Homo sapiens: one gene and its partners. The protein of the gene in region 1 interacts with the protein of each later gene in a biochemical or structural test. Each region holds a gene or a part of one and is shown in the gene's direction. Other genes may lie near its edges. The genes, in order: DVL3, GOT1L1, PLXNB1, CYTIP, SCN5A, SLC34A1 and KCNJ18.

Region 1 (3,875 bases):
GGGGACCCAGGCCCTGCAGTGCCTCCCCTCATGGGGGCAGGGCTGGGCCAGCCTGGTGGGGAACGACTGTGGGCCCCACAGGTTCAGCAGCTCCACAGAACAGAGCAGTGCCTCACGCCTGATGAGAAGACACAAGCGGCGGCGGCGGAAGCAGAAGGTTTCTCGGATTGAGCGGGTATGGGGTCTGGGAGGCTAGGGATGGGTGGAGGCAGATTGTGAGCCCTTCCTACGCAGGGCCAAGGCTTGTTCTTCCTTAGATCCCATCCCCCTAGTGCAGTGTTGAGAACCTTGGGGCTGGGGGCTGCACCGGGGACTCACCTTGAGGAGGAGTCAGGTGGGAGTGAATTCCTGCCACCTCCACCTGCTGCTCAGGGCCTCTGTCTATTCCAGTCCTCGTCCTTCAGCAGCATCACGGACTCCACCATGTCACTCAACATCATCACGGTCACTCTCAACATGGGTGAGTCTGAGGAAACAGCACTCTCAAGCACCTGCTATATGCCAGACACTGGGCAGACTTGAGTTCAGAGAGCGTAGAATATGTTCCCTGCCCTCAAGGAGCTCTCTTTCGTAAACATCAGCTGATACATAAACTGATCATTTTAGTATCTCACCATCAGGGCTATGACAGAGATAAGCACAGAGAGCTGTGGAAGCAGAAAATGGTATCAGGGAAGGCTTCCTGGAGGAAGTGATTTCTGAGTGCCCACTCCTTCACATCTCTCAGCCATTGCATCCTTGCTCTCCGATTTCTGCCCTAGGTACTCTCTTTATGAGACAGCTGGATATAGTAAAAGGAGCCCAACTATGGGATTTAAATCTGAGTTTGATTCCTGGCTCTGCCACTTACTGGCTTAGAAAAGTCATCTTCTAAGTTCACTGAACCTCAGTTGCCTGCTCTGTAAAATGGGACTGAGTCCCTACCTTATAGCCAGCAAGGGTTCCATGGAAGCATGTTTGAGCATGCTGAGTGCAGTGCCTGATTCAGGATCAGCAAATGTCAGTTCAGTTCCTGTCCCTTTCCATTTTCTAATGGGCTGGGAATGCGGGTAGGAACCTTGCTCCCCCTTAAGGTCTTAAATTACTCTCTATAGAAAAATATAACTTCTTGGGCATCTCCATTGTGGGCCAAAGCAACGAGCGTGGTGACGGCGGCATCTACATTGGCTCTATCATGAAGGGTGGGGCCGTGGCTGCTGATGGACGCATCGAGCCAGGAGATATGTTGTTACAGGTATCAGTGCCCATCCTAGGCGGTGGTGTGGATAGAGGGCAGGGAGGTGTCCTACCATCTGTACCCTGCTCCTTCAGAGGCCCCTTCTTGGTTGGGGGAAGACTCCCTGACCTACCAAGTTGAGTTCCCTTTTCATCCTCCCCAGCACAGCTGTTTATCCCACTCCTGGTCCTTTCCCAGGTAAACGAGATCAACTTTGAGAACATGAGTAATGACGATGCAGTCCGGGTACTGCGGGAGATTGTGCACAAACCGGGGTATGGATGGAATGGGGCACTGGGCAAGGGGCTTGGTCTGGCCTATACGCATCCTGCCTTCACTAGGACACCCTTGTTTTCAGGCCCATCACCCTGACTGTAGCCAAGTGCTGGGACCCAAGTCCACGTGGTTGCTTCACATTGCCCAGGAGTAAGTGGATGGGAGACTCAGTCCTAAAGCTGGTGCTTACATACATGAGCACTGTCTCTCCTTTCTTCTCTCACCCAGAACCCCCATATCTATCCTGTTGGGCCCAGCAGTGGGTGGGGTGGGTAGCCCATGACTCCTCATCCTCCCTGCAGGCGAGCCCATCCGGCCCATTGACCCTGCGGCCTGGGTCTCCCACACTGCAGCCATGACCGGCACCTTCCCTGCATACGGCATGAGCCCCTCCCTGAGCACCATCACCTCCACCAGCTCCTCCATCACCAGTTCCATCCCTGACACAGAGCGTGAGTGTCCCACCCTGTCTCCTGGGCCCAGCAGACAGGGCCAGGTGGGGGGACTGATGAGGGTCCATGTGGAGACTCTTGCTTGAGCATCAGAGAGGGCTGGAGATGGGGCTCGGCTCATTCCAGCAACCCCACACTGCAACTCCCCCACAGCGGGCACTCCAACCCTCACTAAACAGTGTTTGCTTCTGAACTTGTATGAGCACCCAGGGCGCCTCAGTTTCCTCTTACAAAATGGGACTCACGATATAAACTTTACCAGGTTCCTGTGGGTTTAATGAGAGGATATAAGTGAAGCACCATTGCGATGTGTGGTGTAAAGTAAGCATTCAGTAAACGGCAGCCATTTCGATTATCATCACATGCACATCGTACACTGGCCAAGCACCTGCATTTACATTATTTAATCCTTTATTCAAATAGCCTTGTAAAGTAGATATTAAAATCCCCATTTTTTACAGAAGGGGAAACTGAGTGTCCAAGAAATCAGTAATTTTCCCAGCATTGATCCCATAATTACTAGATGGTAGAGCTAGAATGCAAACTCTTGTTTACCTAACTCCAAAGCCCCTTTCTGCCTCACCATTCTGCCTCCCACCCCCAGGCCTAGACGACTTCCACTTGTCCATCCACAGTGACATGGCTGCCATCGTAAAAGCCATGGCCTCCCCTGAATCAGGGTTGGAGGTCCGTGACCGCATGTGGCTCAAGATTACCATCCCTAATGCTTTCATCGGTGAGAGAGCCCCATGGTGGGATGCAGGGTGGGTGGGGAGTGATGGGGCAGGGCAGGCCGGAGGGCCCAGGACTTGCCTTGGACCCTTCCTTTGATCTGGAGCCAGCCCCAGCCTCATAGCTTCTGTGAGGCCAGATGAGTCCAAGTCAGATGGGCCTCCCCATCAACTGGCAGCCTTGTCCCCAGGCTCAGATGTGGTGGACTGGCTGTACCACAATGTGGAAGGCTTCACGGACCGGAGGGAGGCCCGCAAGTATGCCAGCAACCTGCTGAAAGCTGGCTTCATCCGCCATACCGTCAACAAGATCACCTTCTCCGAGCAGTGCTACTACATCTTCGGTGACCTCTGCGGCAGTATGTGCCTCCCTCATCTTCTTGCCCTGTCTCCTGGCTGGGAGTGGGGAGGTAGCCAGGGAAGTGGCAGCAGACTCTGGGGAACCCAAACTGGGGGACAGCAGAGCCAGGGGCCCAATTCAAGGCCTGAGAGTTCTATGGTGGAAGAAGAGTCCAGTTTAGCCTCTTCACCTGGCCCACATCTCCCTCTTGGGCCTGGCATTTTCTAAGTGCCTGCTCTGCCTGGTACCATGTTGGTTGTTCCTAAAGCATCATCTTACTCAATATTCACAACCTCCCAGAGGCCCAGCTCAGGAGGATACTGCCAGAATAGGCCTTTTCCTTCTCACTCGTCAAGGTCTCAGCTAGGGTGTTGTAGGCTTAAAGGGAAGAACTGGAGGCCTAGGTAGCCCCGAGGAGCACACAGTCATTCCCTCAAAACAAACAGCCTGGAGGCTCACGTCATCACCAGCTCTGGGCAACAGCTGACAGACCACTGCTTTCCTCCACCACCACTCCCCATGCTGGCTGCTGGCCTCTTGACAGGTTGATGGCTTGGCTGCAGGCTCCACAGGCAGCCTCAGAGCCCTGTCTCCTGACTTCTCTCTTGGAAGGCTGGGGCTGGCTCTTCTTAGGGCTGGGAGGAATGTCTCATCTTAATAGGGCCGGTGGCCTCAAGGGCAGTTGTAGCTCTCTTGGAGCTCTGGGACCTGGTACCGATAGTGTGTGAGCAGAGGGTGTCCCAGGCAGGTATTCAGTCCTGGTGGCCCCTTATATTCTCTTCAATGTAGTTCCAACATTGGTGGGAGTAGCCTTGCCATTAAGGAATGTATAATTTCCCCGGGGGCGCCAGGATCGTGAG
Region 2 (4,631 bases), on another chromosome or scaffold:
CCTTTGTATGCCTAAATCAGGCAGTCATTGGCTACCCCTGTCAGTGGGGGTGAAACCTCCAGGTGGTTTCTAGGCTAGCTGACTCCTGCCAGCCAAGCACAATTCTCCAGAGAACACAGGCATATAAGCCTTGTCCACCAGCGAAGCAGCAGCTGGGGCCGGGCACATTGGTGGTGAAGGCCTTCTGGGTGAGACATCAACAGTGTTTGCAACAATCATTTAAAGAGTTATTTAACATCAGGCTGGGTGTGGTGGCTCATGCCTGTAATCCTAACACTTTGGGAGGCTGAGGTAGGCAGATCACTTGAGGTCAGGAGTTTGAGACCAGTCTGGCCAACGTGGTGAAACCCTGTCTCTACTAAAAATACAAAAAAAAGCCGGGCGCAGTGACTCACGCCTGTAATCCCAGCACTTTGGGAGGCCCAGGTGGGCAGATCACCTGAGGTCTGGAGTTTGAGACCAGCCTGATCAACATGGAGAAATCCCCCTCTCTACTAAAAATACAAAATTAGTTGGGTGTGGTGGCGCATGCCTGTAATCCCAGCTACTCGGGAGGCTGAGGCAGGAGAATCTCTTGAACCTGGGAAGCAGAGGTTGCAGTGAGCCGAGATCACACCACTGCACTCCAATGTGGGCAGCAAGAGCGAGACTCTGTCTCAAAAAAAAAAAAAAAAAAAAAGAGAGAGTCATTAAACATCAAAAGGAAAAGAAAGCAAGCAATATGCAGACTGACTCTATAGAGGCTGGCTCTTTTCTCCCCTTGGCCTCTGCTGTCTATACTTACTAGTTGGCTGTCATTGAAACTTAACAAATGGCCAGGTGTGGTGGCTCATGCCTGTAATCCCAGCAGTTTGGGAGGCCAAGGCAGGCAGATCACCTGAGGCAAGGAGTTCGAGACTATCGACAAAGTGAGACTCCATCTCAAAAAAAAAAAAAACCAAAAAAAGAAAGAAAAAGAAACTTAACAAACATATGTAGAAGTCTTGGCTCTAGATAACTGAGAGAAATAGGACTGGCTTAGTGAGTTGCCAATTATATTCTAATAATAGGATTCTTTATTAAAACAACTGTGGAAGAAAACAGTGTTTGCTTTTTATTCCTTTTGAAATCTGGGGCACTTTGCAAAATGGAAATCAATGCCTCGACTTGCATTGGTGTGTGATCTGGGGTTTTTGCTTCTGCAGGAGAAGCCCTATCTGGCTTATTGGCTGCCTGCCTTGCCCTATGTCTTTCTTTCTTTTTTTTTTTTTTAATTTGTATAAATGTGTGAAGTACAAGTGTAATTTTGTTAGATGCATACATCGCATAGTGGTGAAGTCAGGGCTTTTAGGGTATCCATAACCCCAACAATGTACATTGTATCTGTTAAGTAATCTCCCATTATCCTTGCCCTGTCATCTAAGGAGTGGGCTTGTTACTTTGGACTGAGCCACCTGGGGCTAGAGAAGAGAAGGCATTGAGTGAGGGAAACGGGCTTGGGAATTCCGGAGATTGTTATCCTGCCCTGCCCGCTGTCTGAGGGGATTCTCCTCAAGTACCCTGGAATGTTCCTGTGGCCCCTGTGGATCGCCACCACAAAGATCATGAGGTTCTGTTGCCCTGGCAACCCGTTGTCCAGCGCCTCTGCACTGGGGCTGCCAAGGTTCCAGGAAGAGGCAGGACTGCCCGGCCCAGCCTTGGAGGAAGACTTCTGGGCAGAAGCGGAACACAGGAGCAGAGACACATAGTCTTGGCTCCAGTTTCGTTTCAGTTATGCCCACCCTTTCAGTGTTCATGGATGTGCCCCTCGCCCACAAGCTAGAGGGCAGCTTGTTAAAGACCTACAAACAAGATGATTACCCGAACAAGATATTCTTAGCCTATAGAGGTAGATGCCTAGCAGTTCTGAAGTATAAGACTTAAGTGATGGTAACTGCCTCTAGGAGGACAGTGTTCCCTGCTGCAGGGGGAGGGGTGCAGCCCAAGCTTCTGTGGGTGGAGAGATCTTTTCTTGTTAACAGAATTACCCAGTGGGGAAAAGTGCAGATAAGGTCCCAGGTCATTCCATGCTCTCTGCCCTTCTCTGGGGGCTTCTAGGGATTTGGTGAGAGCTATGTCCTCTTCCACAACTCTATGCTTGGGGGCCTGCATGGCCATCCCACACTTCTTCAGATTCTTACCTCCTCTCTCTCTCTTTCTCTTTCTCTTCCTGTTCTTGAACCAAGAATGGTTCTCCAGATTGAGCTTTCTGCTATGCAACTGGGGCTCACCACTGTGAAAGTCAGGGTTACCTTTATTTAGCTTCATCTACCTATAACTCTCATTTTGCATATATATATATATATATATATATATATATATATATATATATTTTTTTTTTTTTTTTCTTGAGACAGGGCCTCACTCTGTTGCCCAGGCTGAAGTGCAGTGGCAAGATCTCAGCTCACTGCCACCTTTGCCTCCTGGGCTCAAACCATCCTCTTGCCTCAGCCTCCTGAGTAGCTGGGACTACAGGCGCTGGTCACCATGTCTGGCTGTTTTGTATTTTTTTGTAGAGACAGGGTTTCATCATGTTGCCCAGGCTGATCTTGAACTCCTGAACTCAAGTGATCCACCCACCTTAGCCTCCCGAAGTGCTGGGATTACAGGCCTGAGCCACCAATCCTGGGCTTGTATAATTTTTAACCTTTAAAATGGCATAGGTTTCAGTTGTCTTTTTTAAAAAGACAAAAATAATACACATTCACTAACAGCATATTCTTTTCATCAAGGAGAAAAGAAAAGGGAAAGTTGTATTTTCACAGGCACCTTCCCACAGCCCCATGGAGTCCAGGAGAGATTTGTTTGCAGGCTGTCTGCAGAGCTCAGCCCTGGGGGCCCAAACCAGGCATCTGGAGCTCCCTCTGTGGTTTTCCTCACAGTCTGCATGACAAATGAAGGCCATCCCTGGGTTTCTCTCGTGGTGCAGAAGACTCGACTACAGATTTCACAGGATCCCTCCCTGAATTATGAGTACTTGCCCACCATGGGCCTGAAATCATTCATCCAGGCCTCTCTAGCACTCCTCTTTGGAAAGCACAGCCAAGCCATTGTGGAGAACAGGGTGAGAAGGTGGGCCCTCCCCTGGCTCATTTAGACACAGAGAGTGGCGATCTGGGTCTGCACAACCTTAAACCCGAAGGGGACCTCGGAGGGCCCCCTGGTATTGATAAAAGAGATACCTGAGGCTCAGAGAGTCCACAAGTCCTTAGCCATCGAGTCAGGATCGGAATCTCAGTCCAGTGGTATTCCCACCTGCTCACACTGCTGATTTGAAAGCTCTTTCAAGACAGGAATGATCTGAATTGGAGGTGGTGTTAGTATTCCCATTACTGTTTTATTTTTTAACCTATTATATATATTTTTTGAGACAGAGTCTCACTCTGTCACCCAGGCTAGAGTGCAGTGGTGCCATCTCAGCTCACTGCAACCTCCACCTCCCAGGTTCAAGCAATTCTGGTGCTGCATCCTCCTGAGTAGCTGGAATCACAGGCATGTGCCATCACGCCCAGCTAATTTTTGTATTTTTTGTAGAGACAGGGTTTCACCATGTTGGCCAGGCTGGTCTCAAACTCCTGGCCTCAGGGGATTCCCTGCCTCGTCCTCCCAAAGTGCTGGGATTACAGGCATGAGCTACTGCGTCTCGCCTCCATTACTGTTTTAGAGTGTTATTTCTGTCTATTTCTTTTTATTTTTTAATGTTTATTTACTTATTATTTTTTTGAGACGGAGTCTCACTCTGTCACCCAGACTGGAGTGCAGTGGCCTGATCTCCGCTCACTGCAACTTCCGCCTTCCGGGTTCAAGTGATTCTCCTGCCTCAGCCTCTTGAGTAGCGGGGATTACACATGCCCAACACCACATCCGGCTAATTTTTGTATTTTTAGTAGATACGGGGTTTCAACATGTTGGCCATGACCTCGAGTGATCCACCCACCCCAGCCTCCCAAAGTGCTGGAATTACAGGTGTGAGCCACCACACCTGGCCTATTTGTGTCTATGTCTTGCTGGCAGGTAGGGGGTGTACACACTGTTGGTGACAGTGGTGCCTTCCAGCTTGGCGTCCAGTTTCTCAGAGCTTGGCATAAGGATGCTCGTATAGTTTACATCATCTCTTCTCAAAAAGGTTAGTCTTACCCAAGATGAGGGGAACAGCAATCCCCGTCCCTTGTTCCTAATCCTCACCCCATTTGCCATCTTCACTGTTATCCCTCATTCTCTGTCATGAGCAAAATGGCAGACAAGCCAAGCTATTTATGTCCTTTTCCTGTTAATGTCCCACCTTCAGCCAGTGACTCTCAGCCCCACACTCCAGTACCTCTGTCTCCGTCTCTCTGTTTCCCATGTACCAGCTAGTGGGGGGCTGTGTTCCCACAGAACTGCATGGACTCGTCTTCCAGGACATGGGCTTTACAGTTTATGAATACTCTGTCTGGGACCCCAAGAAGCTATGCATGGACCCCGACATACTCCTCAATGTGGTGGAGGTAGAGGGGCCCCGCTCAGAAACTCCTCCCTAGAGCTGACTTACAGCCTAATGTTCCTCTCCTCCCCACACCTCTTAAGTCATCCAAGACCTTTTCCAGGTTTGAATTTGCCTGGCCCTTCAATGG
Region 3 (3,875 bases), about 140 Mb from region 1:
GCCCCACCTCGGCACAGACACCCCTGGAGCCTTCCCCCGCAGTTTTCTCCAGTGGAGAATTAATGGGCTGTTTTTATTTCTCTTTTCCTTGGTCTCCTTTCCTCTTAACATACACTGTGCCTGCCTGCCTCCTGTCCCGCGCCTGCCTGCTGAGTGGCCCTTCCTGTCTTCCTCTGCCTCCCCCTTCAGAGCCCGCTTGTCTCCCCAGACCCTCCTGCAAGAGGTGGACCCAGCCCCTCCCCACCCACAGCCCCCAAAGCCCTGGCCACCCCTGCTCCTGACACCCTTCCCGTGGAGCCTGGGGCTCCCTCCACAGCCACAGCTTCGGACATCTCACCTGGGGCTAGTCCTTCCCTGCTCAGCCCCTGGGGGCCATGGGCAGGTTCTGGCTCCATATCTTCCCCTGGCTCCACAGGGTCGCCTCTCCATGAGGAGCCCTCCCCTCCCAGCCCCCAAAATGGACCTGGAACCGCTGTCCCTGCCCCCACTGACTTCAGACCCTCAGCCACACCTGAGGACCTCTTGGCCTCCCCGCTGTCACCCTCAGAGGTAGCAGCAGTGCCCCCTGCAGACCCTGGCCCCGAGGCTCTTCATCCCACAGTGCCCCTGGACCTGCCCCCTGCCACTGTTCCTGCCACCACTTTCCCAGGGGCCATGGGCTCCGTGAAGCCCGCCCTGGACTGGCTCACGAGAGAAGGCGGCGAGCTGCCCGAGGCGGACGAGTGGACGGGGGGTGACGCACCCGCCTTCTCCACTTCCACCCTCCTCTCAGGTGATGGAGACTCAGCAGAGCTTGAGGGCCCTCCCGCCCCCCTCATCCTCCCGTCCAGCCTCGACTACCAGTATGACACCCCCGGGCTCTGGGAGCTGGTGAGGCCCAGCCCAGGAAGGAGGCCTCAGGGGAGGGGATGTGGGGAAGATGCTACCCCTAGCTTGCCTTGTGATTCTGCACTGGGAGGAGGTGAGGGGCAGGGTGGAGTCTGCAGCCCCACACCGGCCTTGCCTCTGGAATCTGGCAAGGCAGAGGGCTGAGCTGGGCAGGGTGGGCTCCATAGACTGCCTTGCCCTTGGTGCCTGCAGGAAGAGGCGACCTTGGGGGCAAGCTCCTGCCCCTGTGTGGAGAGCGTTCAGGGCTCCACGTTGATGCCGGTCCATGTGGAGCGGGAAATCCGGCTGCTAGGCAGGAACCTGCACCTTTTCCAGGTCAGTGTGTCCTGCCTGCCGCTGTCCTTGCAGCCTCCTTAGCTGTTGAGAAACTCTGCACAAGCCCTGGGGAGCAGGAGGAGGGCAGAGTCCGAGGGCTCAACTCCAACCCAGAAGCTGTGCTGGGGGATCTGTTGGGTGACCTGCAGGACTCCCTGGGCCCAGCTCCTGAAGCTGCCCAACAGCTGTGTTCTCTGCCCTCAGGATGGCCCAGGAGACAATGAGTGTGTGATGGAGCTGGAGGGCCTCGAGGTGGTGGTTGAGGCCCGGGTCGAGTGTGAGCCACCTCCAGATACCCAGTGCCATGTCACCTGCCAGCAGCACCAGGTGCACACCATGAGCGCCTGGGTGGGCACGGGTGCACTGCACTGGCCACAGGCTGGCTGCCAACTGTAGCTGGCTGCACCACACTTTCCAGAGCCACGCTCTGACCGTGTCGCCCTGAGGGAGTCTCCACACCCATTTCTGACCTCTGACCATGTGCCCCGTGGAGTCCTTGCATCCCAGCTCTGAACTCTAACTTGAGACCCCATGGGGTCCCCATACTCCATTTCTGGCTCTGCCCTCCAACTTGTGGCCCCATGGGGTCCCTCTGACCCTATGCTCCTAACTGGTCGTTTTAGTCCTTTCTCTGACTAACCCCTCCCCAGGCCTGACACTTCCCCCAGTGCTTGACTCTGAACCCACTCCCATTTCTCCAGCTCAGCTATGAGGCTCTGCAGCCGGAGCTCCGTGTGGGGCTGTTTCTGCGTCGGGCCGGCCGTCTGCGTGTGGACAGTGCTGAGGGGCTGCATGGTGAGCCACCTGCGGGCTGCTGGGCTGGCGGTGGTAGCAGGGCTCTCCCAGGCCTGCCTCTCACGTGTGTCTCTGCCACCCCCAGTGGTACTGTATGACTGTTCCGTGGGACATGGAGACTGCAGCCGCTGCCAAACTGCCATGCCCCAGTATGGCTGTGTGTGGTGTGAGGGGGAGCGTCCACGTTGTGTGACCCGGGAGGCCTGTGGTGAGGCTGAGGCTGTGGCCACCCAGTGCCCAGCGCCCCTCATCCACTCGGTTTGTTGAAAGGCTGGCCATCCCTTCCTCAGTGCTGCCCTTAGAGGGAGGGTGTGGGGGCCCAAAGGTGGGAGGTTGGGGCTGCCTTTCCAGTTGAGTAGAGGTGAGCAGTCCTTGTCCTGGAACAGGTGGAGCCACTGACTGGGCCTGTAGACGGAGGCACCCGTGTCACCATCAGGGGCTCCAACCTGGGCCAGCATGTGCAGGATGTGCTGGGCATGGTCACGGTGGCTGGAGTGCCCTGTGCTGTGGATGCCCAGGAGTACGAGGTCTCCAGCAGGTAAGCTGGCTGCACCCAGCAGGAGCACGGCGCAGCCTGGGGCCTCCGCGGTTGGCGTTGCTGCTTGGGGCCTCCCACCCACCGCTCATCTGCCCCCCTCTCTCCCTGTTCCTTGATCCTGGCCACAATGCCCGAGTGCCAGCGTTGCCACTGAAGACCCTGAGCACCCACCACACCTGTAGGTTCCTGGCCTGGGCTGCTGGGGAATCCTTCCTGGGCCCGTCACTGCCCAGAACTGACTCGTGGCTCTGCTTCCTGCTCTGCTCACCTGGTCTTCTGAGGGACTGTGGATATATTAATAGCTGTGGCAGCAGGACCCTCAGATCAGACAGATAAGCTCAGGGGCTGGCCTTCTCACCAGCTCACTCTTCCCCAGGCATTGTCCTGGGCTGCCAGGCTCTTCAGGAAGGTAGACTTGGAAGGCACACCTCAGAAAGGCACACTGGCCGAGGGCCAGGCTCCACTGTCGTCTCTAGGGACCCCTGCTGCCTTCCTGGGGCTCCTGGGTTATGGTAACCTGGCCAGCGGTTGCAGGCCCCAAAGGTACACACGCAGGACATTCCTAAGGAGATGTCCATAAGCAGCAGGGCCCAAACGTGGCTGAATATCAGGGTAACCTGCAGATCCTGTCCCAAACCAACACAAACATCTGGATTCAGGAGGCCCACGGTGGGGCCCCCAAATCTGTATTTGAAACAAGGAACCACTCTCCTGGAGCACGGAGTGTCCCCTGAATGTGTTATGACCGAGAACTTACGGTGACTATCTAGACTGTTAGTGTTCCAGACCATAAGACTGCTGTGATTTATGAAGCAATTAGCATATATTCTGTCTGGAGCCTCCCCTGGGTGGCTCACACGTCACTTGTGTCTTCCTAGTGTTTGCAACAACTGTGACAATGTCACTGAGTTGAGCCACTGCAGGCTTAACACTCTGGAAGTTTAATTTGCCCAAGCTTCTATTTTCTGGCTAAGAACCAGCATTTTCTTAGATGGTTCACTTTCCCTTCACCTGTATTTCCCTGTCTGACTAGAGGCTTTCAGGGACTCTTTTTCCTGAATAAATCAAGTTTCTACCATGCTTTGAGTGGGTACTGTGCATGTGACGTGGCGGAGGACATGGGCGGCTAGCTGTGCCCACTCACTTGCTCAGCAGCTCGCCCCACAACCAGGCTGACAGGGCCCCTTTGTAAATTTATGCCACAGATAAATTCTTCCTTATTGGGGGCCCCTGGGGTTGAACTTAAATGATTGAAGCCACAAATATTAATTCTCAGATACCAAGGCCTTCTGATGTGTCATAAAGAATTCCCTCCAAAGTGAGAGAGGGTCTCTGTCAA
Region 4 (3,875 bases), on another chromosome or scaffold:
ATTTTCAACACTTTCAGGGCTGACGTCAACAGCTCATACTTCTTGTTGTTGTTGGCTTTGGTTTCTGCAAAGCTATATCTGGTTAGCTTGTAGTTTCAAATTATTAGTCTTCAGAATCAATTGGGTGTTTACATTCAGAATTATTTAAAGATAGATTTCTCTGTGTGCATATTATCTCACTACCTGTACTGATAGGAAGTGTCAGACACCCCAGTATGGCTTCTACTTGTGAACACAGTTTTAGGACAAAAAAAAAAAATCTTTGCAATGGAAAGCTCGGTAGGAAGGAGACAGGAGGAATTAAGGACAGTCTCTATCAATGATGTCAAAGAAGTAGTGATTGTCTTACCACCCACTCTCATAAATGTAGTACGTTGCTTTTGGAAAGCAGTTTTTACAGAATGCTATAGTGAGAACCAGGGACCTGACAAACAAGTCCACAAACTTCAGTGGTACCACAGACTGACTCTCTTTTCCTAATTTTCTTTTAGTTATCACATTATTGCTAAATAGGCAACTTCTGGCAGGCTGATTTCATCTATAAGTTCAGATAGGGAATGTGTGCTCTGCTCTGGGATGTGTACACTGCTGGGCTGGGCTCTGCCCTGCAGGAGCTTTCACGGTGTGTCCGGCAGCACACCCATCAGGTGCCGTAACTCCCAATTGTCCTGAACTACACCAAAGGATTTTAATCACCTCATGACAATTTTAGGTAGAAAACTGTGCTAATTTCACTAGAAAAGACTTTGAAAATTATTCTTTAATCTGTATTGTGGCATGCATGGTCAATATCCAATAATTTTTCTTGAAGAGTCTGTGAGCCCACCATCAGACCTTACTTGGAAATGGCGGTATTGTATTTCGGTTTCTCCGGGCACTTAACGTCAGGAAATTAAGTTCAGCTCCATTATTTTGTTGCATCTTTGAATAGTCTGTGGAGCGTTGATATCCTAATGCTCCTTATTTAAAAGTGGGTGGGAGTTGCATGGAAGAATTGGGGAGTGAGGCAGGGGACTGGAAAGGGAGCAGAGCACATAATTTTGGGGCCTTTGAAACAAGTAACAGTGACAAAAAACCTCACTCTGGAATCAGTAACCTCTCCCCCGCACCCTCCCCAACACTTTCAGGAGATGAGTATATAGAGTGGGGACCAGGAGGAAGTAACCTCTGTAACCCAGAAGTGGCTAAAGTGTTGAACTTTGAGCTTCTCTAAGGAGAGCTGGCTATCTGGCTGAGCTGCCAAGTACTCCTGTCTTTCAGAAATTGACAGCTGAAGTATTTGGTCTTGGTTTCCCACTGAAGAGGAATGTGTAGAATCACTGCAGAGCAGAAGAAATTAAATTTTGAATATTAATGCCTGATCTTTTAAGTTATCTGACTAAAAACAGAAGAGTGATCATAAGCCCAACCCTAGGTATCAGTGTATTATGGCTAGCAAGGAGTTAAGAAGCTTTGTCTATTCAGCAGTCATAATTGAATGTGTAGTTTGCAAGCCTGCCAAATTGCTAAACCTAGATTTCTCATATTAGATAATGTGTAATAAAAGACAGCTGTTGCCAGCATATGCTGTGAATTGCACACCAGTTCCTCATTCATGATTTTTGGCGCCATCACTACAACCCTTAGAAAAGGCTCTGACTGGAGGGCTGTCTGGGGAACATAGACCCCACTGGTCAGATCCTTGAATAAGGCTGCTCGCCCTAGGGAAAGCGGGGCAGGAAAGACTTTTTTTTTTTTTCAAAGTGCAAAACCCTTGATAAGACCTTAGACACACTTCATTTCACTTTAGGCAGGTAGTTTGGTGTGTGAGCTAGTTTCGAACCCTGGGAACATTCCTTTCCACATCGCCTGAGTCTGACAGCCCGGATCAAAAACAAGCAGGCTTTGTGTCAAGACGTGGCACGTGTCAGAGAATTTGACGGTACTTAATTTATTTAAATTGTTTTTTGTTTAAGTGTTAGATGCTTGAAACAGCCTCTTAGCTAATACCGAATGGAAACTAATTTGTAATTTGACTTAATCTGACTTTTGGTGTTGCTGATAACCCAAATTAGTCAGTCCACAGGAACTGAAAATCTGCTATGCTTCTCATGTTGTGCTAGACAAATATTTTCATCTTTAACTAGTCAATTAGCTAGATAGAAAGGTTAGAAGTAGAGTGGTGGGGGAAATATCTATAGAGGCTTCAGGTCTGTCCTGTGGTTTAAAAGATTTTACATTTGAATCTATCCAGAATGACTTTTGATTCAAAAGACCGATTGGATGAAATCTTGAAGTTCCTAATAGATGCACTGATTTCCGGCATACTAAAAGGGTATTTAAAATTGACAAGGCTCAAAATTTTACTAATAATTTATTAATTCTTGCCACCATTCATCCACTTAGCAGCTATGTACTAAGGCACTACTATCTTTGTTTTCTGTTAGTACTTTTTCTGCATTTCTTGTTTCGGATTGAATTTTTTTTTTTGTTCTTGTCTGTTTTCTTTCATTTAAAATTTTTTGGTTTTTAAAATTTGTACTTATTCAGTTGATATATAATCATACATACTCATGGTATACATAGTGATGTTTTGATACGTGGAATGTACAGTGATCAGATCAGAGTAATTAGCATATCCATCACCTCCCTCACACAATGATCATTTCTTCATTTTGGGACTGTTGAATATCCTCCTTCTAACTATTTGAAACTAGTACATGATATACTATTGTTAACTATAGTTAGCCTACAGTATAGAGCACTAGAACTTATTCTTCCTATCTAGCTGTAATTTTTTATCCTTTAACAAGTGTGTCCCTATCCATTTCTTCCCCCAACCCTTCCCAGCCTCTAGTATCCTCTGTTCTACTTTTTACTTCTATGAGATCAACTTTTTTTAGCTTCCACATATGAGTGAGAACATGTGGTGTTTAACTTTCTATTCCTGGCTTATCTCACTTAACATAATGTCTTCCAGTTCAATCCATGTTGCTGTGAATGACAGGATTTCATTCTTTTTTATGGCTGAATTGTATTCCATGGTGTATATATACCACATTTTCTTTATCCATTCATCTGTTGTTGGACACCTAGGCTGATGCCATCTCTTGGCTATTGTGAATAGTGCTGTAATAAACATGGGAGTGCAGATGTCTCTTCGATATAATGATTTCCTTTCCTTTGGATGAATTCCCAGTAGTGGGATTGCGGGATCATATGGTAGTTCTATTTGTAGTTGTTTGAGGGACCTCCATACTGTTCTCCATAGTGGCTGTACTAATTTACATTCCCACTAACAGTGTATGAAAGTTCCCTTTTCTCCTTATCCTCACCAGCATTTATTATTTATTGTCATTTTGATCATAGCTATCCTAACTGGTGTGAGATGATACCTCATTGTGGTTTTAATTTCCATTACCCCAATGATGAGTGATATTGAGCATTTTTTCATATATTTGTTAGCCATTTGTATGTCTTCTTTTTCTTCCTTTCTTTTTTTTTTTTCTTTTTTTTTTTGAGATGGAGTCTCACTCTGTCGCCAGGCTGGAGTGCAATGGCATGATCTCAGCTCACTGCAACCTCCGCCGCCCGGGTTGAAGCGATTCTTCCAACTCAGCTTCCCTAGTATCTGGGATTACAGGCACCTGCCATCATGCCTGGCTAATTTTTGTATTTTTGTAGAGACGGGGTTTTACCATGTTGGCCAGGCTGATCTTGAACTCCTGAGCTCAGTTGATCCACCCTCCTTGGCCTCCCAAAGTGCTGGGATTACAGGTGTGAGCCACCATGCCCAGTCTTGTATAGCTTCCTTTGAGGAACGTCTGTTCAGATCATTTGCCCATTTTTAAATTTTTTTTTTTCTGTTGAGGTATTTTAGTTCATTATATATTCTG
Region 5 (3,875 bases), about 150 Mb from region 1:
ACCTCACCTCTGTTTCCTCTTCTGGAAGATAAGGATGATGGCATCTGCTCACTTCCTAGGACAATGGGAAGGACTAAATGAAATGATGGCTATAAAGTGCTCGGCCCATTGCCCCAGTGATCGTAAACACTGGACCCATGTCAGTCAGTGACATTATTATATAAGGAGTCTGGAAAGGGCACTTGGGCCATATAAGACAAGTTTATTTCACTCTTTATTCCATGATTTATATCCATGCCCCTTAAAACTCCAAACCCAGGTAGTCACAGGAGACCCAGGGGCAGTGACGCCCTCAAAGGAGGCAGAGTTAGGAGAGCGATAAGAACCATCACAGAGAAGCTGAGAGAAGACACTGGCCATGGCGTGGCATCAGGGAGCACTGATTTCTGGGCCAGTGTTTCATGCCCTTCGATGGGCACATAAATCATCTGGGCTTCTTAAGATGCAATGGGCTGGGGTGGAGCTGAGATTCTGCATTTCTGATAAGCACCTAGGAGATCCCAAGGCTGCTGGTCCTCAAACCACACTTTGAATAGCAAGGAGCTAAAAGACCTGAGTTCTGGCCCAAGCTGGGTGGGCAAGATACTAAGCAGATCCCCTCTGGCCTGAGAACCCAAGATGTAGAAGATGGGCCTAGGACAGCTCTATTGTGTAGGTACACACTGAAGATTAAGGAATGAGGGGGCTGAGAAGGAACCCTGCAAAGGACCCATTTTTCTGGGTCACAGATGCAGACATGGAGACTCAAACAGACAGGAGCAGGCAGAGTCCTAGCATGCCCAGTGGACGCAATCCTGGAAGGGCCGCCTCTCCTTGGCTCCTTGCCATATAGAGACCCCCCCCCCACCGCCAACCCCTGCACAGTGATGCTGGCTGGAAGACAGAGGTGCCACCAGTAGCCACAGTCTCTGTTGTTTCCCACAGGCACTGTGCTCTCGGACATCATCCAGAAGTACTTCTTCTCCCCGACGCTCTTCCGAGTCATCCGCCTGGCCCGAATAGGCCGCATCCTCAGACTGATCCGAGGGGCCAAGGGGATCCGCACGCTGCTCTTTGCCCTCATGATGTCCCTGCCTGCCCTCTTCAACATCGGGCTGCTGCTCTTCCTCGTCATGTTCATCTACTCCATCTTTGGCATGGCCAACTTCGCTTATGTCAAGTGGGAGGCTGGCATCGACGACATGTTCAACTTCCAGACCTTCGCCAACAGCATGCTGTGCCTCTTCCAGATCACCACGTCGGCCGGCTGGGATGGCCTCCTCAGCCCCATCCTCAACACTGGGCCGCCCTACTGCGACCCCACTCTGCCCAACAGCAATGGCTCTCGGGGGGACTGCGGGAGCCCAGCCGTGGGCATCCTCTTCTTCACCACCTACATCATCATCTCCTTCCTCATCGTGGTCAACATGTACATTGCCATCATCCTGGAGAACTTCAGCGTGGCCACGGAGGAGAGCACCGAGCCCCTGAGTGAGGACGACTTCGATATGTTCTATGAGATCTGGGAGAAATTTGACCCAGAGGCCACTCAGTTTATTGAGTATTCGGTCCTGTCTGACTTTGCCGATGCCCTGTCTGAGCCACTCCGTATCGCCAAGCCCAACCAGATAAGCCTCATCAACATGGACCTGCCCATGGTGAGTGGGGACCGCATCCATTGCATGGACATTCTCTTTGCCTTCACCAAAAGGGTCCTGGGGGAGTCTGGGGAGATGGACGCCCTGAAGATCCAGATGGAGGAGAAGTTCATGGCAGCCAACCCATCCAAGATCTCCTACGAGCCCATCACCACCACACTCCGGCGCAAGCACGAAGAGGTGTCGGCCATGGTTATCCAGAGAGCCTTCCGCAGGCACCTGCTGCAACGCTCTTTGAAGCATGCCTCCTTCCTCTTCCGTCAGCAGGCGGGCAGCGGCCTCTCCGAAGAGGATGCCCCTGAGCGAGAGGGCCTCATCGCCTACGTGATGAGTGAGAACTTCTCCCGACCCCTTGGCCCACCCTCCAGCTCCTCCATCTCCTCCACTTCCTTCCCACCCTCCTATGACAGTGTCACTAGAGCCACCAGCGATAACCTCCAGGTGCGGGGGTCTGACTACAGCCACAGTGAAGATCTCGCCGACTTCCCCCCTTCTCCGGACAGGGACCGTGAGTCCATCGTGTGAGCCTCGGCCTGGCTGGCCAGGACACACTGAAAAGCAGCCTTTTTCACCATGGCAAACCTAAATGCAGTCAGTCACAAACCAGCCTGGGGCCTTCCTGGCTTTGGGAGTAAGAAATGGGCCTCAGCCCCGCGGATCAACCAGGCAGAGTTCTGTGGCGCCGCGTGGACAGCCGGAGCAGTTGGCCTGTGCTTGGAGGCCTCAGATAGACCTGTGACCTGGTCTGGTCAGGCAATGCCCTGCGGCTCTGGAAAGCAACTTCATCCCAGCTGCTGAGGCGAAATATAAAACTGAGACTGTATATGTTGTGAATGGGCTTTCATAAATTTATTATATTTGATATTTTTTTACTTGAGCAAAGAACTAAGGATTTTTCCATGGACATGGGCAGCAATTCACGCTGTCTCTTCTTAACCCTGAACAAGAGTGTCTATGGAGCAGCCGGAAGTCTGTTCTCAAAGCAGAAGTGGAATCCAGTGTGGCTCCCACAGGTCTTCACTGCCCAGGGGTCGAATGGGGTCCCCCTCCCACTTGACCTGAGATGCTGGGAGGGCTGAACCCCCACTCACACAAGCACACACACACAGTCCTCACACACGGAGGCCAGACACAGGCCGTGGGACCCAGGCTCCCAGCCTAAGGGAGACAGGCCTTTCCCTGCCGGCCCCCCAAGGATGGGGTTCTTGTCCACGGGGCTCACTCTGGCCCCCTATTGTCTCCAAGGTCCCATTTTCCCCCTGTGTTTTCACGCAGGTCATATTGTCAGTCCTACAAAAATAAAAGGCTTCCAGAGGAGAGTGGCCTGGGTCCCAGGGCTGGCCCTAGGCACTGATAGTTGCCTTTTCTTCCCCTCCTGTAAGAGTATTAACAAAACCAAAGGACACAAGGGTGCAAGCCCCATTCACGGCCTGGCATGCAGCTTGTCCTTGCTCCTGGAACCTGGCAGGCCCTGCCCAGCCAGCCATCGGAAGAGAGGGCTGAGCCATGGGGGTTTGGGGCTAAGAAGTTCACCAGCCCTGAGCCATGGCGGCCCCTCAGCCTGCCTGAAGAGAGGAAACTGGCGATCTCCCAGGGCTCTCTGGACCATACGCGGAGGAGTTTTCTGTGTGGTCTCCAGCTCCTCTCCAGACACAGAGACATGGGAGTGGGGAGCGGAGCTTGGCCCTGCGCCCTGTGCAGGGAAAGGGATGGTCAGGCCCAGTTCTCGTGCCCTTAGAGGGGAATGAACCATGGCACCTTTGAGAGAGGGGGCACTGTGGTCAGGCCCAGCCTCTCTGGCTCAGCCCGGGATCCTGATGGCACCCACACAGAGGACCTCTTTGGGGCAAGATCCAGGTGGTCCCATAGGTCTTGTGAAAAGGCTTTTTCAGGGAAAAATATTTTACTAGTCCAATCACCCCCAGGACCTCTTCAGCTGCTGACAATCCTATTTAGCATATGCAAATCTTTTAACATAGAGAACTGTCACCCTGAGGTAACAGGGTCAACTGGCGAAGCCTGAGCAGGCAGGGGCTTGGCTGCCCCATTCCAGCTCTCCCATGGAGCCCCTCCACCGGGCGCATGCCTCCCAGGCCACCTCAGTCTCACCTGCCGGCTCTGGGCTGGCTGCTCCTAACCTACCTCGCCGAGCTGTCGGAGGGCTGGACATTTGTGGCAGTGCTGAAGGGGGCATTGCCGGCGAGTAAAGTATTATGTTTCTTCTTGTCACCCCAGTTC
Region 6 (4,528 bases), on another chromosome or scaffold:
TGCCTTCTCTGCTGCTTGTATGAGTCCCAACAGCAGCTCTGGTCAGATCCAGCATTTTCTCACTTTCACTAGGGCTGTAGCCCCAAAATAAATCTTTAGAAGTGGTGGCTGTGTAAATCAGCAGCATTTTGGAATTATATCTCTTGATGGATTTGATCGATAGCTAACTGCCTCCCCCACTAAACCCAGAGCTCCGTGACAGCAGGGAAGGCAAACTTCAAAAATATCAAAAAGCACAACCTTATTAAAAAGGAGAAACACCCCCAGTTCACCAGGAGCACCTTGGATTCAGCTGCTCCTGCCAAGGGTCTGAACTGCACGGGGGAATGGAGAGAAACAGGTCACGTGGGCCGGGGTCTCTGGGCCCGCTGTGGGGGTGTCAGTTTGCTCATAGGTGGAGACACTCGATGTGACATTAACAGCACCTTCAAGCCCAAGGACCCAGAGATTCTGACACAAGAACTGAGAACTGATTGCATTTCCGTGACTCAGCGACACCCTCCTACCTGGGCATGAACCCAGCCCTAGCCAAAGATCCAGAGACCCGACTCCCATCTATTTCCTTTTCCTCTCTCCCTCCCCGTCACCAATTCTACTGGTCAGATGTCCCTGGGATGCACCTGTCCTCCCCAGCCCCTCCGTTCCCATCGGAGTTCAGGCCTCATCATCTCCTGCCTGGACCATTAGCCTCTTAACTGGCCCCTCCGCTTCCAGGCTCCCTTCCATATATCCGGGTTCCACCCCGGGGGCCATTCTAAAAGGCAGATCAGGCCCATCCCAGTCTGGCCAGCGGCTCCACATTCACTCAGACTCACATCCTGGACCCATGGTCGGGCATTAGAGACCTGCCACGATTCAACATTCCACGGCCTTTCCAGCTTAGGTCCTCATCTCACACTCCCTCTCCTCTGAGCTCCCCCTGGGAGACTTACAGACACCCCGACGCTTGGCAAGGCCATAGGATGTTTTTGTTTGGTTTGGTTTGGTTTTTCTGAGACAGTCTCACTCTGTCACCCAGGCTGGAGTGCAGTGGCACGATCTTGGCTCACTGCAACCTCCGAAGGCCATAGGATGTTTGGGTCATTCCCTGGGGAGTCCTGTCAGGCCAGGAACGAGGGGACCCTGGGAACAAGGTGCTGAGTGGCATCAGGGTCTCTGCCTGCAGGCGGGGGATGTGTCTGGGTCGTGGTTGATGGGAAGAACCTGACCATAGATTCCCCATGCAGAGCTGACGATTAGCAATTAACTGGGAGGAATCTCAGGGGTGAGGTTAATTGGGGGACAGAGGGAGGGCAGCTAGGGTTCCAGGGACTTTGCCCTTGACCCAAGAGTATAAAGAGGAGGGTCTCAGTTCTCCTCAGGGTCCTGGAGGCTTCATTGAGCTGCTGAGCAGAAGCTGAAACACAGAATTCTAAGGTGAGCCCAGGACCCTCACATCCCAACCCCACCCCCAGCTCTGAGTAGGAAACAGCCCAGCACCCCAGCCCCTTCATCTGTGTCCTATCTGCGCCCACCCCCACCGCGCCCCATATAACATGTCAGTCCAGCCAATCGCGGTGGCTCCCACCTGTAATCCCAGCACTTTGGGAAGCCGAGTGGGCGGATCACCTGAGGTCGAGTTTGCACTAAAAATACAAAAAATTAGCCAGGTGTGGTGGCAGGCACCTGTAATCCCAGCTACTTGGGAGGCTGAGGCAGGAGAATCGCTTGAACCCACGAGGCAGAGGTTGCAGTGAGCCAAGATTGTGCCACTGCACTCCAGCCTGGGCGGTAAGAGTGAAACTCCATCTCAAAAAAAAAAAAAAAAAGGACTCCTGCTCCTTCAGGACTTGAATTCAACTCTTCACACCCCTACAACAGCCAAGGACGCTGGGACAATGCGGGGAGTGCTGAGGCAGATCAGGGCACTCCACCCCAATAGCCAAGACTCCTGGGGCAGTGCGGGGACAAGGGGGGGCTGAGGCAAGCCTGTCAGTGTTTGTTCATTGCCCCTTGAGGGGGTGGATGGGGAAAGGAATTCATTGTGAGGGGAACCCAGGAACTCGGGATCCGGCCCAGGGGATCTCCGTGTGTGCCCAGCTGACCCCATGAGAAGGCAGGTGTCTGCAGCTCCTCCTTGCTCTCCAGGTGGGCAAAACTGAAGCCCGGCCCAGCCCCAGCCCACACCTGCAGCCACTGCCAACACCACGTATTCCCTGGCCCCCTCCAGCCCCAAACAGGCTGGGCGTCCTCAGTTCTCAGTGTCTTTTATCAATGCTATATCCAAGCCTCTGGTTCGGAGCCTGGGCTAGAGCTCAATAATACTCATTGAATGAGTGAATGGTGAATGAATGATCACCTCACCACCACCACACACACCCCTCCGAGACTCACATGCAGGTGCCCAGCACAGATGTGCACATGTGAGTCTGCATGTGAGTCTCGGAGGGCTGTGGTGGTGATGATGGAGGGTGTGGTTTGCTGGGTGTGTGTTTGTGCGTGTGAGTCTCGGAGGGGTGTGTGTGTGTGGTGAGGATGGAGGGTGTGCTTTGCTAGGTGTGTATTTGGAATCATGCGCCATGGGGGTTTGTGCAGGTGAGGGTGTGTGGGCATGAGTGTCCCGGACACAGCTATTGTCATTCAGCGTTGCTGAGACCCACTGACCTGCAGACCTCATAGTGGGTGCCCAGGATGTTGTCCTACGGAGAGAGGCTGGGGTCCCCTGCTGTCTCCCCACTCCCAGTCCGTGGGGGGCATGTGATGCGAGGGACGGCCTTTGCCTACGTGCCCAGCCCTCAGGGTAAGTGCTGCTCCCACACCCTGGACCCTGGTTGCCCACGGTTGCCCACATCCCGGATGAGGCCACTTCCCCCGCCTGTTCCTCCCCGCCTCCCCACTTTGGGGCCCTGGGGCTCCTGACCAGGCTCCCTCCCTAGTCCTACACAGGATCCCGGGGACCTCTGCCTATGCCTTCCCCAGCCTGGGCCCTGTGGCCCTTGCTGAGCACACCTGCCCCTGTGGGGAGGTCCTGGAGCGCCATGAACCACTGCCTGCCAAGCTGGCCCTGGAGGAGGAGCAGAAGCCAGGTGGGCCTGGGCTGGGGGTGGCAGAGGCGGCAGCAGTCCCTGCCCTGGCCTCTGCCCACTATGCTCATGGCTTCCCCCATCCAGAGTCCAGGCTGGTCCCCAAGCTGCGCCAGGCTGGCGCCATGCTGCTCAAGGTGCCACTGATGCTCACCTTCCTCTACCTCTTCGTCTGCTCCCTGGACATGCTCAGCTCGGCCTTCCAGCTGGCTGGAGGTAGGGCCCGGGTGGAGGAGACCTGGGAGGGGTTCCTGAAGGGCCTTGGACAACGCTGGCTCATGCTCCCCAGGGAAGGTGGCTGGTGACATCTTCAAGGATAACGCCATCCTGTCCAACCCGGTGGCCGGGCTGGTGGTGGGGATCCTGGTGACCGTGCTGGTGCAGAGCTCCAGCACCTCCACATCCATCATCGTCAGCATGGTCTCCTCTGGCTGTGAGTTGGCCCACCAGGGTGGGGAAGAGCTTGGAGGGGCACCCCAGGAGCTGGGAAGGGTGGCAAATGGGGAGCGTGACCCCAGTAAGGCTGGCCTCCATTCAGCTTGACTCCTGTATCAGCCAGGGACATGAGAGGAGCCCAACTGTAGCTGTATGTGACCCAGATGATTTATGGCAAGGAACTGGCTTCCCCGATGGTAGTTTGTCTGGGCAAGTCAGGAATCCGTAGGCCAGGGCATTGGAAGGGCAGGCGGGAACTCTCAGGTGGGCGCCGACACTGCAGTCCAGACAGGGCAGCGTTTCTCCTTTCTCAGGGAAGCCTCAGTTCTGCTTGAGGCCTTTCATTCTATTGGATTAGGCTGACCCAGGTTACCAAGGATAATCTCCTTTTCTTAAAGTCAGCTGACTGTAGACGTGAATTGCATCTACAAAACACCTTACAGAACACCCAGGCTAGTGTTGGGTTGAATAACTGGGTACCACAGCCTAGCTAAGTTGACACATAAAACTAACCATCACTGGCCGGGCGCAGTGGCTCATGCCTGTAATCCCAGCACTTTGGGAGGCTGAGGGGGGCAGATCACGAGGTCAGTAGATCGAGACCACCCTGGCTAACACGGTGAAACCCTGTCTCTACTAAAAATACAAAAAAAAAAAACAACAAAAACCAAAAAGCATTAGCCAGGCGTGGTGGCAGGTGTCTGCAGTCCCAGCTACTCAGGAGGCTGAGGCAGGAGAATGGCATGAACCCAGGAGGCAGAGCTTGCAGTGAGCCGAGATCATGCCACTGCACTCCAGCCTGGGCGACAGAGCGAGACTCTGTCTCAAAACAAACAAACAAAAAAACTAACCATCACACTCTGGGGCATGTGTGCACACACAAGCACAAATCTCTATTTGCACATAGGACATGAGCCCACGAGCCCTCATAACGAAGGCCTCACACGCACACACGTTCACATCCATACACCATGTGCAGCACGTGTACATCTACTCGCATGGATGAATGCACACACCTGTAAACGCACAGC
Region 7 (4,398 bases), on another chromosome or scaffold:
ATTTTATAGGTGAGAAAACTGCGGTTCAGAGAGGTTATGTGGCTAGCCCAAGGCCACACAAGAAGGGATGGAGACAGGATTTGAATTCATGCCTTGTTGCCCCAGAACTCTTATAGTTTCAAGCTCTCTTATGGCCCTTGGGCTCCCCATTGCCTTTGGGATCAAGTCTAGGCTCATTAATATGACATCTGAGGCCCCCTGGGGTGATGCCTCAGCCTCTGTGCCTGCACACGCTGAGCTTCCCTGATATGATGGTGTCAAGGCTGTGCCCATCTCGTCACACCTTCCCCACAAACCCCGAATAGTTTAGATCCTGGAATGGAGGGCTGGCAGGGCTTCTGTGGAGTAGCTGGGCCAGCCCCCTGGTTTGCACACAGTCAGGGTGGGTCTTGCCCAAGGCCCAGTGCCTGGAGAGTGAAGCTGGAATCTGCACCAAGACTGCAGGACTCTGGTGCTCTTAGCTGTGTCACTGTGCTATGGTTAGTCTCAGGCGGGGTTGTCACCCCTGCTGCTCGCTGCTGCCTCCCCACTGGCAGATACTCCTCTAGGAAGCACCCCTCCTGCCACTGGGTTAGACACCTCCCCTGGGCTCCAGAGGGCCCAGCGACTTATGACTGCTGACTTCTCACCGTCTGCCCTGTGAGGCAGGGTGCCCCATGAAGGCAGGCGCCCAATGCTTCCTCTTCAAGTCCTCGGTGCCCAGTGAGGACTTGAAGAGGGAGACCCAGAGAGGGACAGAGCCCTGCTCCAGGTCACACAGCAAGTTGGGGCAGAGCCAGGAGTCCTAGAAGGGCCCCAAGACCCTCCAGGTCTCCCCTGTTCGTGGGACTTAATGGAGCCCAGGGATGGGGCAGTGTCTGTGATGGCCACCCCAGCAGAGGGCACTACTGCAGGGCCTCTGTTCTCTGCTTCTCCCAGGGGCCTGGGGCCAAGGACACCCTCTGTCCCTCCTGCCCCCACCCTCTGTGAAGAAGGATGTTCTCAAGATAAAAATACCGTCAGAAACATTCCCTGGTGTTTGGTGTGACTGTCGTCCACCCTGTGGGGCCAGAATCTTCTGACCTGGCCTCACCTCAGGGCTTAAGGGTGGACATTTGCCTTTTCTAGCCGCTTGGTGCAGCCTCTTTCTGGGGTCCATATGTCCAGCCCCCATCTTTACGCCACAGAATGTGAGGGGTCAGTGTCACTCAAGGTTCCTGCAGCTTCCACTTTCTGAGCATCCTCTGTGGGCTGGGCGCATCCCGAGCATGGAACAGCGAGGCAGATCCTGCCCTTGTGCGTTTTGTGGCTCCTTGCGGGCCAGGGGGGCTTCTGAGGACATCCAGCAGGCCACAGGGAGGCTTGGGCACAGTCAGCTTTCCGTCCTGTTGGGAAGCCTGTTTCTGCTTTCAGTGCCTACGTGGTGTCAGGAACGCCGGTCACAGTGAACGCCTGCAGGACCCACACTGCTGCATCGTCTCTGTGGGACAGATACTGAAGCCAGGGCTTGGCTTACCCTCGTGACAGTCTCCCGAGGTGTGTGGGGTCTCCTCATTTTGCAGATGGGGAGTTTCAGGCCCCAGTCAGCTGGGGGGCTGCCAGGCCTCTCCAGGGAGGGTGACGGCTGCCACCTCCCAGAGACCCGCTGGGGCGAGGCCCAGTGCCCGGACTGCAGCTTCGTCACCACCTTCAATTTCATGGCACACCCTCTGAGAGGCCTGGCAGGCGACACCAGCCTCATTTTTCAGGGGAAGCTGAGCCTCAGGAAGGGGAAGTGCCTTGCCCTGTTCCGTGGGGGATTTCAGCCCCATCCTCAGCCCAGGCCCTGCCCTCCCCTGCGGGACGCTGTGGGCCAGCCCGGCCTGTTGGCCCTCAGTCGTGGTCATGGGGAAGCACTGCCCCTGCAGCCCACCTCCCCATCCAGGATTGTGACCATAACCCCGGGAAGCATTTGTGGGACTTGGCGGGGTGAGCTCACATGGCGGCTGCTGTGGCCCCTGCAGGTGGCGGGAGCTCTGGCCAGGGCATCCGGAAGGCTGGCTCCTGTTTGCAGGGTGCTGCCCTGCCCTGTGACTTCAGGAAATTCGCTTCTCTGCTCTACGTCTCAGTACCCCTGTGTAGAGTAGAGCTAATTTTGCCTTCCTCCTAGATAAAAACAAATCCAGCTGGATTTGTGGTCTGGGGAATGCCCCTTTCAGGTAGTAGGGAGTGAGGGACGAGGTTGGGAGAGCCTGGTGCAAGCCAGGTGACCAGCAGGATGTGGATAGATGCTGCTGCCCACACTTCTGGCCCCCACCCCTGCTTGGCTCCCCATGGCCCTGTGGCAATATCCGACCTTCGCTGCTCAGAGTTCCAGCTCCAGGTGACTGTGCAGGTGACTTAGCTTCTCTCAGCCTCAGTTTTCCTATCTGTCCAGAGGGGAGAATTGTCCCTCCTCCAAGGCAGGGCTGTGAGCATCGGGATGACTGCAGCCAGCTGCCAAGCATGCAGGGCCAAGCACAGTGTTGGCTCACTCGGGGAAGGGGGTGGACCCAAGTCCCTGCCGTGGAGGTCCCCAGCTGTTTGATGTTGGCTTGTGACAGAACCTCTCTGAAACTCTGCAGCTCATCCACCTGTCCATCCATCCACCCGTCCATCCATCCACCCATCCATCTCTGAACCTCTGTGTCCCCATCAGTTTTGAGGATGGAATGGCTGAGAGAGGCAAAGTGTAGGCCTGTGGCTTCTGCTCCCAGAATGATGAGGGATGGGGAAGAAGGGGCTGGGGATTGGGGGACTTGGAGGGTGAAGAGGGACTGAAGGGCCACTAGAGACCAGGCAGGCCATCCCATTTCAGAACAAGCTGAGAGAGGGGAAGTGACTCACTCAAGGTCACACAGCTTATGAGGGGCAGAGCTGGGATTTGAATCTAGGTCTGTGTGCCTGTAAACCACTGTCACCTGTCCCAGGAGGCTGATGATGTGGGGGTGACTCACCAACAGTTGCCTTAATTCCAGCCAGAAAAACCAGTGTGACAAACCAGCCTCGGCTGTAACCTTGGAAAGGGCAGGCCCCATGAACTCCATGGCTGGGAGGTGCGGAGGTGAGAAGCATGTCAGGTGGCTCACCGTGGAGATCCTCAGAGCCCCTTCCCACCAACCTCTTCTCTGATTCTCACGGCACACTGGATAGGAAGGCAGGGGGATCCCTTTGACAGGTGGGGAAATTGCATCTTTGGGATTGCAGGGACCATGTAGGATGTATGTGTACCCAAGGCAAATCTCTGGCAAATTACTGATGTGTGCCCATCCATGTAGTTAGCCATGTGCCCACCTGCTCATCCATCTAGTCATCTATCCTACTTGCCCAAACACCCTATCCATCCATCTACCCACTCATCACCCACCCTCACACTCATCCACCCATCCATCTATCCATCTACCCACCCATCCATCCACCCATCCACCCATCCATCTATCCATCTACCCACCCATCCACCCACCCATCCATTCACCCATCTGTCCATCCATCCACCCTTCCATCCCTCTATCCATTCATTTCTTTACCCACCCATACACTCATCCACCTGTCCATCTATCCACCCATCCACTCATCCACTCATTCACTCCACCCATCCATCACCCAACATTCCATCCATCCATCCATCCATGCACCCGTCACCCATTCATCCATTAATCTGTTCATCCACCCACTCAACCATATACCCACCCATCCACCCAGCCATCCCTCTATCCATTCACTTCTTCACTCACCCATCCACTCATTCACTCACCCATCCATCCACCCAATCATCTGCCCATCCATCCATCCCATTCGTCTATCCATCCATCCACCCACCCATTACCCATCCATCCACCCATCCATCCATCCATCCACCCATTCACCCATCTATCCCTCCATTCATTCATCTACCCATCCGCTCAGTCACCCACCCATCTACCCTTCTGTTCATCCATCCATCCAATCATCTACTTTCACACTTATCCATCCATCTATCCAACCATCCATCCATCCATCCATTCATCCATCCATCCATCCATCCATCTTTCCATCCTATTATCCATTCATCCACTCATCCATTCACCCATTCATCCACTCATCCATCCTTCCTCCATACAGCCATCCACCCTCACACCCAACCACTCATTCACCCATCCATCCATCCACCCACCCATGTATTCATTCATCCATATACCCACTCATCCATTTATCCATCCACCTACCCATTCATCCCTGCATTCATTTTTCCACCCACCTATCCATCATCCATCCATCCTTCCATCCATCCATCCATCCATCCATCCATCTACCCATTCATTCATCCACCCCCCCAGCTATTCACAACTGGCTCCAAGGTTGGCGTTGGGAAGGCTCTGCAGGTGGTGGCTGGGAGTACAGGCTGAGGGCCTGAATTCCTTT

What was found.
Region 2: the proteins of DVL3 (region 1) and GOT1L1 interact in a test that uses a peptide from one of them, tested with the Homo sapiens proteins (one large-scale study listed by IntAct).
Region 3: the proteins of DVL3 (region 1) and PLXNB1 interact in a test that uses a peptide from one of them, tested with the Homo sapiens proteins (one large-scale study listed by IntAct).
Region 4: the proteins of DVL3 (region 1) and CYTIP interact in a test that uses a peptide from one of them, tested with the Homo sapiens proteins (one large-scale study listed by IntAct).
Region 5: the proteins of DVL3 (region 1) and SCN5A interact in a test that uses a peptide from one of them, tested with the Homo sapiens proteins (one large-scale study listed by IntAct).
Region 6: the proteins of DVL3 (region 1) and SLC34A1 interact in a test that uses a peptide from one of them, tested with the Homo sapiens proteins (one large-scale study listed by IntAct).
Region 7: the proteins of DVL3 (region 1) and KCNJ18 interact in a test that uses a peptide from one of them, tested with the Homo sapiens proteins (one large-scale study listed by IntAct).

The regions. Positions count from the first base shown.
Region 1 is NC_000003.12:184,165,032-184,168,906, forward strand, and holds part of DVL3 (segment polarity protein dishevelled homolog DVL-3), read left to right. Parts: intron 1-81; coding exon 82-175; intron 176-390; coding exon 391-460; intron 461-1,094; coding exon 1,095-1,234; intron 1,235-1,414; coding exon 1,415-1,491; intron 1,492-1,574; coding exon 1,575-1,642; intron 1,643-1,794; coding exon 1,795-1,944; intron 1,945-2,548; coding exon 2,549-2,680; intron 2,681-2,866; coding exon 2,867-3,034; intron 3,035-3,875. UniProt on the Homo sapiens protein: Involved in the signal transduction pathway mediated by multiple Wnt genes.
Region 2 is NC_000008.11:37,937,151-37,941,781, reverse strand, and holds the start of GOT1L1 (putative aspartate aminotransferase, cytoplasmic 2), read left to right. Parts: upstream 1-1,657; 5' UTR 1,658-1,752; coding exon 1,753-1,867; intron 1,868-2,900; coding exon 2,901-3,082; intron 3,083-4,032; coding exon 4,033-4,144; intron 4,145-4,395; coding exon 4,396-4,505; intron 4,506-4,631.
Region 3 is NC_000003.12:48,416,572-48,420,446, reverse strand, and holds part of PLXNB1 (plexin-B1 precursor), read left to right. Parts: intron 1-189; coding exon 190-870; intron 871-1,080; coding exon 1,081-1,203; intron 1,204-1,407; coding exon 1,408-1,530; intron 1,531-1,904; coding exon 1,905-1,998; intron 1,999-2,083; coding exon 2,084-2,256; intron 2,257-2,384; coding exon 2,385-2,536; intron 2,537-3,875. UniProt on the Homo sapiens protein: Receptor for SEMA4D. Plays a role in GABAergic synapse development. Mediates SEMA4A- and SEMA4D-dependent inhibitory synapse development. Plays a role in RHOA activation and subsequent changes of the actin cytoskeleton.
Region 4 is NC_000002.12:157,437,322-157,441,196, reverse strand, and holds part of CYTIP (cytohesin-interacting protein), read left to right. Parts: intron 1-105; exon of another isoform or gene 106-1,921; intron 1,922-3,875. UniProt on the Homo sapiens protein: By its binding to cytohesin-1 (CYTH1), it modifies activation of ARFs by CYTH1 and its precise function may be to sequester CYTH1 in the cytoplasm.
Region 5 is NC_000003.12:38,548,608-38,552,482, reverse strand, and holds part of SCN5A (sodium channel protein type 5 subunit alpha), read left to right. Parts: intron 1-924; coding exon 925-2,162; 3' UTR 2,163-3,875. UniProt on the Homo sapiens protein: Pore-forming subunit of Nav1.5, a voltage-gated sodium (Nav) channel that directly mediates the depolarizing phase of action potentials in excitable membranes.
Region 6 is NC_000005.10:177,383,072-177,387,599, forward strand, and holds the start of SLC34A1 (sodium-dependent phosphate transport protein 2A), read left to right. Parts: upstream 1-1,362; 5' UTR 1,363-1,416; intron 1,417-2,623; 5' UTR 2,624-2,670; coding exon 2,671-2,779; intron 2,780-2,915; coding exon 2,916-3,065; intron 3,066-3,149; coding exon 3,150-3,278; intron 3,279-3,351; coding exon 3,352-3,495; intron 3,496-4,528.
Region 7 is NC_000017.11:21,691,200-21,695,597, forward strand, and holds the start of KCNJ18 (inward rectifier potassium channel 18), read left to right. Parts: upstream 1-1,323; 5' UTR 1,324-1,515; intron 1,516-4,398. UniProt on the Homo sapiens protein: Inward rectifier potassium channels are characterized by a greater tendency to allow potassium to flow into the cell rather than out of it.